Linked DNA regions of Homo sapiens. Changing the gene in region 1 together with any one later gene gives a genetic interaction. Each region holds a gene or a part of one and is shown on either strand. Other genes may lie near its edges.

What was found.
Region 2: changes in UBE2D3 (region 1) and ETAA1 are lethal when combined (synthetic lethality), as found in Homo sapiens cells (one large-scale study listed by BioGRID).
Region 3: changes in UBE2D3 (region 1) and PTAR1 are lethal when combined (synthetic lethality), as found in Homo sapiens cells (one study listed by BioGRID).

The regions. Positions count from the first base shown.
Region 1 is NC_000004.12:102,800,007-102,803,668, forward strand, and holds part of UBE2D3 (ubiquitin-conjugating enzyme E2 D3), read right to left. Parts: intron 2,633-3,662; coding exon 2,555-2,632; intron 1,554-2,554; coding exon 1,448-1,553; intron 1-1,447. UniProt on the Homo sapiens protein: Accepts ubiquitin from the E1 complex and catalyzes its covalent attachment to other proteins. In vitro catalyzes 'Lys-11'-, as well as 'Lys-48'-linked polyubiquitination.
Region 2 is NC_000002.12:67,407,328-67,410,117, forward strand, and holds part of ETAA1 (ewing's tumor-associated antigen 1), read left to right. Parts: intron 1-2,583; coding exon 2,584-2,711; 3' UTR 2,712-2,790. UniProt on the Homo sapiens protein: Replication stress response protein that accumulates at DNA damage sites and promotes replication fork progression and integrity.
Region 3 is NC_000009.12:69,721,994-69,725,655, reverse strand, and holds part of PTAR1 (protein prenyltransferase alpha subunit repeat-containing protein 1), read left to right. Parts: intron 1-2,025; coding exon 2,026-2,330; intron 2,331-3,662.

The DNA.
Region 1 (3,662 bases):
GAGTACTAGTTAAATACAATGCCAAAATCTCTTTAGTACTAAGTGAGTCATCAGCTCTAGTTTTTACCTTAACCAGTTCAACATACTGATGTATAAGATGTCAAGCATTAAGGAACATAGATCGCATTCACTTTGAGTGCCTGCTATGTGCCAGTCACCATATATGGTGGTGCTGTTATAAAATGTTAAGATATAAATGCTTGAAATGGTTCTGACCGATTTTTTTTTAAAAAAAGCAATAGTATAAAAAAGACAACACTGTCACATATTTATTGACTACAGCAAATTTAATTTCAAACCCCAAATACAGCAGAATATAAAATTACCTAATATAGGAGACTTGGCTATACAATAACTCACAGAAAAAAGGTAGCTTCAGTTGTGACTGCTAGTTTAATAAGTTAGCAAAGTATGGCTGCCAAAAAAGTAAGTTGCTTTAACGACAAAACAATACCAATTCAATCTGCCCTTACAAAAACAGTTTTCAGTGTTACTGTACACTCCCAGCAGTAGTAGAAAAACTTGGAAACTGATATTTAGGTATGTAGCATGATTTGAAAAGAAATTAGAAAGCATCCAAGAAGGTGAAAAACAGGTGTAAAATTTTAAAAACACTCGAATTATGGCAGCATCTGCCTAAGTTGTTTCTTTTTCTCCCTTAAGTGATTCTACTCAATAAAGTTTGGGAAATGCTACTGCTACAGTCTCTCTCCATGAGATTCAAGTGCAGTATATACACATATGAAACTTTTATACAATGCCTTGCCTTTTGAAAAAGCTTTTTTGTACTTACTGAACTCATAAAATCAAAAAACAATTAATGGTGAAATAGTGTTAATTATTACAACTTCACCTGGGATATTCATGCGGAGACCGGAAAACTTGTTACATATAACGTAACAGATACCTATTAAGAGACCAGAATTGATCTACAGATCTTTCGAAGATTATATAATTTTAGACTGTCATTAGGTAGAAACAACCTATCATGGTTACATAAAACATGACTGAAGATTTGTCTAAAAATTAACCCAGGAAAGCAAAATCAGAATTTTCCTAGAGTGGAAACCTCAGGATTCAAAAGCTCTATTAAGTTTAGGTATATCATACCATTCTTGGTAAAAAGGCCGCAAGTTAGTGTGAGATGTCCAAGTGGTTTGGGATTGAAAAATACAGAAGTCTATTAAAATAAATTTTGCTATTATAAGATGAGATGAAGGTAACTCATTAGGCAAATAATGCCTACTCACCACAATTTGAATTTTAACAACTTCTCACAAAGTATCTTTAATCAACACCACTAAAAGAACAAAAATTATAAAAGTAACTTTATTGCTTCCCCATCTCTTACCAAAAAGCTGCCATAATAAAAATACTCAGATAAGTAGATCTAAGAATGAAGCTTTATTAGACAATGAGAACAGCTTATTTCACTAGAAATATTTACCTTTAGAAATTGTTAAAGCAGGCGACCACTGTGATCTTAGAATATCGAGACAAATGCTGCCATTACTGTTAATATTTGGATGATAAATTCTTGTTGTAAATGCAACCTAAAACAAAAACTTTTAAGTATTTTATTCAAATAAAAACAAACATCTTTTAAAGCAAAACTTAAAATAATCAAGCCACAATGTTAAAAATGTCATCTATTAGCATAGAAGTTCTAAATATTATAGAAACTGATTTTTACAATCTGACCACAACCCCCTGCCTCCTCTTTTTACAACAGAAACCTAAACTTTTGGATAAAAATTTCATTACTCATATGATGTAAAGTTCTAAAGGTTACTGTGGCCCTACCATATCATGAATCAAAGGGCAATTTAAAGGTATTTAACACATTCATTTATAAAAGCCCTAACTTTTGGATGTAACCAAAATTTGTAGACCATCTCATTTAAAGTTTCATTAAGTTACACAGGTACACCTGAGTCTGCATTTCCACCGTACATAAAACATAAACTTGAATCACAAAAATGGAAACCATCACATTGCACCTATAACATTACTAGAGATTGTTATAGTGACATGTTTATGACCTTTGTATATTACCTTTTCTAGTTATTCATACAGGTTGAATTTATGTTAATGACTGAAAAGTGAAGGATAATATGCTTTTAATACCTATAAACCAGTGCACTAAGCAACTCTAAGTTTTCACAAATTTACACTTACGTATACAAAACTATAAGCATAATAAGCATATGCTGTAACAATACGTGCAAATATAAATTGAAGTTGGACATTTGATGCTTACAAGACAACAAAAGCCCAAAAATCAGAATCTGTGTAACAATAATACAGATGAGGGCGGAAGCTTCCACATGGTCTGAATCTTGCAACATTAAAGAAAAGGCAAACCTTATTCCTATTTACAAAGCTCAAACTGAGGTCTAGCTCTTTAAACCAAAGGTTAAGAGTCAGCATCTATACATGAGTGCAATTCAACATATATATACAGCCTACACAGAACCCTATCTTCCAAGAATGCTCTATTCCTTTGAAATAAAGCATAAATCTATACTAACAGATTTTGAGGGAAAATACTTGCCTTAGGTGGTTTGAAGGGGTAGTCTGTAGGAAAATGAATTGTCAAAAAGAATACACCGCCTTGATATGGGCTGTCATTCTGTAAAAAGAAAAGTATGCTTAACTCAAATTTAAAATATTATTGCTAAATATTCCGTAACATTTGTTTCCAAGCATTTCTCTAATAATGAACCCAAATCACCTATTTACACTGCAATAAATAATCTATTCCATGAAAATTCAGTCTATAGTAATAGAAAAAAACTTAAAACTTATACAGTAATAAACCCTAATTTATCTAGTCATTTTACACGTCACCAAAATGTTTTTTTAAAAAGTTATCCAGAAACGCAAGTATTCTAGATCTCAATTCTCAAAAGTACAACACAGCAATAAAGCCTACATAATCATGTTTCAGAATAATCTGTAAACAAAATTTTACACATGTAGATTATTTCTTCCAATAGCCAGATGTGTACAAATGGCTTCACAACAGTCCATTCTGCCCACTGGCAAACCAAATGTTAGCTATTCCAGGTAACACACACACACCACCTTCAAGAGGAGAACAGAGAAAAGCCTAAGCTTCTCATTTTAATCAATACCAGAAAATACATGCATTGCCCCTATTTTATGCATGAGAAAAATGAGGCTTAAAGAACTTAGTCTAGTGTACAAATGGTAAATGATAGAACCAAGATTCAAACACAAGTCTTTTGAAGACCACTTAATGATCAAAGATACTGACCTACTCAGGAATTTAAAGTTAAAATGTGGAATGCCTAACTGCTTCTGGGTATGCAAAGAACCAATCCGAAGACATGTTTTACAACTTACATGAACTGGGTTTTTACCAACACTGACTCCCCTCTATTAGAAAGGCTTTGTATATACAGCTATATATGAGCCTTTCACTATGCCCATTCTGGATGTCAGGCACATAAAAAACAGGCCTGACACTAACACAGCTCATCTAATTCCTACCCTTCTGTAAAATAAATAAACATTAATTCAATTAATCTAACCCCTTGCTATATACTGTATGTGTGTTAAGGGATCCAAAGAACAATTTTTTTTATCTTGATGAGCTTACACTGATAGACATGTAAAGTAACTGCAATGAAATGTTA
Region 2 (2,790 bases), on another chromosome or scaffold:
AGCCATCCTGGGCTGCGGGTAGCTTGCGGGCTGCGGGTTGGACAAGCTTGCTTTACATGATAGCCCAAACTAGATATTTTGAAATATTAAAAATTGTTCTCAATCTATAATAATTTTAAGTATTTAAATTTGTATTAAAGTGAGCATATTGTAACTAAATCAAGCATGTTCCTAGCATGACTTTATTTACAGATAGAGTTGACCCTTGAACAGTGTGGGGGTTAGAGGCGCTGATCTGATTTGCAGTCGAAAGTCTGTGTATAACTTTTGATCCCCTAAAAACTTAACTGCTAATAGCCTGCTGTTGACCAGAAACCTTTCCGATAACATAATTAATTAATACATATTTTGTATGCTCTTATATGTATTATATACTGTATTCTTACAATAAGCTGGAAAAGTGTTATTAAGAAAATAAGGAAGAGAAAATAATATTTACTATTCATTAAGTGAAAGTGGATCATCATAAAGGTCTTCATCCTCATGATCTTCATGTCTAGTAGGCCGAGAAGGAAGAAGAGTAGGAGTTGGTCTTGCTGTCTCAGGGGTGTCAGATGCAGAAAACAACCTACAAATGAGTGGACTTGCCAGTTCAAGCCCATGTTGTTCAAGGGTCAACTATAGTTATAATTCTATAAAAGACTAAACCTCCTGGAGTATTTGAGTTTTCCCAAAACTCCTATCTACCAATCTATCTGCATTTTTTATGGATAATCTGCGTTTTAGCTTACCTTATCAATATTTTCTTTAAACTTATTGATAGTACTGAATCTCTTAATTACTATTAACTTTGTTGATGTTTTCTATTGTTTCTACTTCCTTTTACTTTGGTATGTAGCAAGCTGCTCTCCAGGGAAGTATCTCTGAAACAAAACTCACTTAACTCCCACATTTATTTCAGGCAGGAGTTGGCAAACTATGATCTGTCCAAATCCAGCCTGCAGCTTGTTTATGTATAGCCAGCACACTAAAAATGATTTTTACATTTTAAATGGTTGGAAAAAAATTAAAAGGAGAATAATATTTCATGACATTTGAAAATTATATGAAATCCAGATTTCATTGTCCATAAACAGGTTTTATTTGAATACAGCTCATCAGTTATTTATACATTATCCATAACTATTTTTGCTACAGTGGTACAGGTGAGCAGTTGCAACAAGATACTCAAAGGTTAACATTCTTGCTTTCTGACTCTTTCTTTACAGGAAAAAAAAAAATTACTGACCCTTGCACTGTAAGATCAAGATTAAGAAGAGCAGCTTTTGCTTAGTACTTTACAATATTTTAAGACTTCATTGTGTATTTTTATTATAGATTGAGTTAAAGGAAAGACTGATGGGAAAAATGGATGAGTCCCTAAATCAAATTTTCATGGTGTGACCTGATTATCATTTGAAATTATTTTCTATAATATTGCCAAGCAAATTGTAAGACCAACTTTAGGAAGTTATGTTTTCTGCTGTTACAGATTATTAACCTGTTTTCTTTCCACACAGTCAAATTCAGTGTAAAGTCTTTGGATGTGTAGTCTGAGTTTGTTGTGTTTCTCAGCTTTGAGACTAAAAGTATTAGATAATTAGTCAAGCTAATTAGAAAGTATCTTCTGGTGTCTCTCTTTAGGAAAAAATATCTACAGTCTGTTAGGTAAATAGCTTAGGAAATAAAAGCCATCAAAATCATCTGGGAAACTTATTTAAAATATGTATTTCTTAGCCTGAATACCCCCTCCCATTTCTGATTATACCAAGAAAGGAAAGGGAGGCAGATTATATATTTTGAAAATGCCTCTGTTAGTTAACAAGAGAAATGTCTCATAAATTGTGTATCTTTTTCTAAATGTCAGAATAAATGATATACTTAAATATGTATTAGGGTGATAGTCTTAAACTTAAAATATCATTTAAATGAGAAAGTGATTTCTAATACAAAGCCTCAACTTACTAAGTTAATTGAGATTATTTTAAAGTTTCTCCAAAATGCATCCTCCAAATAAAAATATAATTTCTGACAGTGAATCACAGGTAACCAGTTTGACATGACAGATTTCATTTTATCACTCTAAAATATATTTCCTCAGTGGATGAAATGAAAATTTTATAGCTCTATAGGGAAAAGTAGATGTGAATATTAATATAACATCTTATGTAAATATACACTGTTTGAGATTGATAACTAATTTAATTCCTTATATTTTGACTATTTTCCAATTAAAGTTTACATAACATTTTAAATCCCAATGTATCCTTTTTAAAGATATATTTATTCGTGGGTCATATAAATTAGATGTCATTGTCCACAAGAATTATTTGGTGGGTAGTCAGTTTTCTATCAAACTGAATTTTATCACACTGTGAAAAGAATGTATCAAATAGAGACAGATCCATCAGTGCTTGATTTTCTTTTGAACTGGAGCATTATATCTGTATTATGTACTTAGAATTTTATATTCAGTAGTTTAGTTTGATTTAATAGCCAACTAATATGGCAAATCTGGGTGATTAAAAAAAGCAAAAATTAAAGCACATATTGAATGACTTTATAGGCTATAAAAGTAAAACTCATCTTTTGTTGAATTTTTAGAGGAAGAAGAGAAAAATAGAAAGTGTTCTCCTGAAGAAATTCAGAGAAAAAGACAAGAAGCACTGGTTCGGAGAATGGCTAAAGCACGAGCCTCATCTGTAAATGCAGCTCCCACTTCATTTCTTTAATGAAATATTAGTTGGAAGACTTCACGAAGACTGCTGATAACTATCTGTGATTGATAGGAAATTTTTTTTCTTGATTTCT
Region 3 (3,662 bases), on another chromosome or scaffold:
AGCCTAAGAATTTTTTTAAGAAATTGATTTTGTTGAAAATATATATATATATTTTTTTTCTTTTTTGAGATGGAGTCTTGTTTTGTCGCCCAGGCTGGAGTATAGTGGAGCAATCTCGGCTCACTGCAACCTATACCTCCCAGGTTCGAGTTATTCTCCTGCCTCAGCCTCCCAAGTAGCTGGGACTACAGGCATGCACCACCACGCCCTGCAAATTTTTGTATTTTTAGTAGAGACAGGGTCTCACCATTTTGGCCAGGCTGGTCTCCAACTCCTGACCTCAGGTGATCCGTCCGCCCCAGCCTCCCAAAGTGCTGGGATTACAGGTATGAGCCACCACGCACAGCCAGAACATCTTTTATATGTGTGCTATTTTTGCCTCAAAATTAAATAATAAACTGCAATTTTATACATAGAAATATCCAGTTAGAAATAATCTAAATGTTTTCATATTATATAAGTTCATTTTAAATAAGTGGAGTACTCTTTTCAATCCATGTTAAGAAGCCATGCCAAAATAAAAAAGCTGCTGTATTATAGCCAGAATGTTCTACAGGTTTATTTTTCAAAAATGTAATAAATGTAAGATTGATTTTTATTTCAGGTAGGAGTTTATCTGGTGCTATTTTTCTTCACCTTTTAAAATCAAATAAAGATACTGTTTTCCATTTCTCAGATACTTGCCAGCTATAGCCTCTGGAATAAATTTAGGTGGCTATGAATAAACTCATTGGAACTTAAAGGAGATGTTTAAAACATATCACTGATACAACTTGACTATCTTGGCTGGAAGTAATCTTACTATTTGCCTTATTTATTAAATTGTTCATTCATTTCATAAAATATTTATGTATCCACTTTGATGTCAGTAGGTATAGGGGGATTGAAGTATCAGATAGGAATGAATAAATATCTTAAAGCCCTCACTCACTGAGTTTAATGAGAATGAAGAGATGCACTGAAATTCTTTAATAAATGTGATGGAATACATAAGTACTATGGGGGTTCAGCAAAAGGAAAGATTCCCGCGGAAGAAAAATGGTGTAAGAAATGGAAAAAAGATCATGGTACAGGAGAAGGCATTTGCCTGGGACCTTTGACAAACAGGTAAAGGTGTCATTCAGCATTATGCTGTCTGTATTGTTAACTGTTCACAAATGTATGTCTTTTTTCCTTAGCTGGTCTGAAAATCCTCTGACGGAACGTGGTAGGCACTTGATATACCTTTCACTGATTTATGTTTGCGACCTGTCCAAGACACTCTCAAATAAATTATTTTTGCATAGGTGCTGCTTTTTAAAAAATCATTTCATTTGAAATTCTTTAGTTTGCAAGATATTGGTATCACAAAGATTTAAACAATTTGCTGCTGAATTTTCAGTTATTTTAAAACCCATTTATTATTACTGTTAAGTAAGTTTGAGACAGTTAAAGTCACGAGCTCTTGAAAAAATCTTATTATTAGTGCATCATGTTTTTCTACTAATCCCTTATAATTAAGTAGTGAGCAAGACAGACACGGTCTCTGCCCTCATGACATTTATATTGAAGAACAAATAATTTCACTGAGCCTATTGTAGAGATAATAAGTTACATATTATACACATTTATTAAATGTAAAATAAAGTTTATATCAAAGTAATCTGAGTTTATATTTTTGCTTTTACGTCAGCATTACTTGTAAATGAATACCCTAATGCTCATCATTATTTTAGAATTTTATTTTCCTTCTCTGTGTGTACCAATCAGAATGTGAGTAGTCAAGGTCTAGGGAAAGGATGACAAATGAGTCCTTAAATTCTTTAGTCTTAAAAAAAAATCTATCACTTTTATATGGGAAAGAGAAAATTCGCATGTATTAAGCTTCCACTAAGTGAGAGCACTGTGCTAGACATTGTGTACAAAATATTGGTAAGAATGGTCTTGTCAAAAAAGGAACAAATCAAAGAGAAATCAGAGGCAATAATGGAGAAAGAAGAACCTTTGGGAACTCTTCTTCTTACTTCCCTTTTTTCTTCTTAAAAGATTCTTCTTGATGAACTATCTTCTACTAAACATTGGGCATCTATGCACGTTTCAGACCACAGTGGATTTCACTACCGCCAGTTTTTGCTTAAGTCTTTGATTAGCCAAACTGTGATAGACAGTTCTGTGATGGAGCAAAATCCTTTGAGAAGTGAGCCAGCCCTAGTTCCTCCAAAAGATGAAGAAGCAGCAGTTTCAACAGAAGAACCAAGGATTAATCTTCCCCATCTTCTAGAAGAAGAAGTTGAATTCAGCACTGATCTTATTGATTCCTACCCAGGACATGAAACCCTTTGGTGTCATAGGTAAGAAAAGGGAAAATCTATTTCCTACACAAAACTGCATGTCTTCATGAGAGCTGCAGAAAGTGTTAGTTACACCTGATTCCTGCCTGCTTGGGTAAACATGGTCATCTGATTGTGGAGCTTTGCCTGAGTGAATACAAGAGGTTTTGTGTTACCATATCATCGTCATCATCATCATCATCATCATTAATAAGAGATTCCTCATGTAGATCTCTGCCTGCAGCTTAGGATGGTGATATTCAACCTTGACTGTGCAACAGAATAACCTGTGTTAGTTCCAAAATAAAACAGAATCAGAAGTTTTTTTGACTCCTTCCTTGGAGATACTAATATTTAGCATATCTAGGATGGATTGCTGCCATCTCTCTTTTTTTTTTTTTTTTTTTGAGATAGAGTTTTGCTCTTCTTGCCCAGGCTGGAGTGCAATAGCGCGATCTCGGCTCACTGCAATCTCGGCCTCCAAGGTTCAAGCAATTCTCCTGCCTCAGCCTTCCAAGTAGGTGGGATTATAGGCACCCACCACCACACCGGGCTAATTTTTGTGTTTTTAGTAGAGACGGAATTTCACCATGTTGGCCAGGCTGGTCTCGAACTCCTGACCTCAGGTGATCTGCCTGCCTTGGCCTCCCAAAGTGCTGGGATTACAGGTGTGAGCCACCATGCCTGGCCCTTTTTTTTTTTTCCCCCCTAGAAAAAGCTCAACACATTGATGCACAGTCAGGATTGAGATTTGATTAGACCCCAAGAATAAGGTATGCTTTATCATTTTTCCAACCCTGATGGTCTGCAAATTAACTTACCTGAAGTATAATCTCTTGACACTTTTTGTTTAAAGTGTAAGAGAATTTCTCTTTGAGAGAGGGGAAAGTCTGGTAGCAAAGAGTGAAAAAGGGTTAGCAACCTATCAACTTCAGTTGTGAGTACATTTGACAGTATGTTGGACTGAAGTCACATATGTGACCCCTTCCCAGCTTCATTTCTTTTGGATCTTCCTTTATTTGGAGGCATCTTCATCTTCATAAATACAGATTCTACTTTAGGCCATAGCATTGTATTTGTAAATGAAAGACTTGCCTGTGCTAGGCAGGAAGGAGGTAGGCATTGTTTAAAATTGCCTATTTCTAAAGTTATTGAGATTTTCTTTCTTTCTCCAGTCTAGTCTGTCTTGCAGGTTATTTGAGGAGACCTGGTCAGCTGCTTTTCCTTACTAAATATATTCAGAACATAAAAGATTATCTCCCCTCTTTGGCACCTTCATTAGTAGAGAACATTCTTTTTCTCTTAAAACCAAGACACTTATTTCATGTTTTCAAGAGGGAAGATAGACCTTTT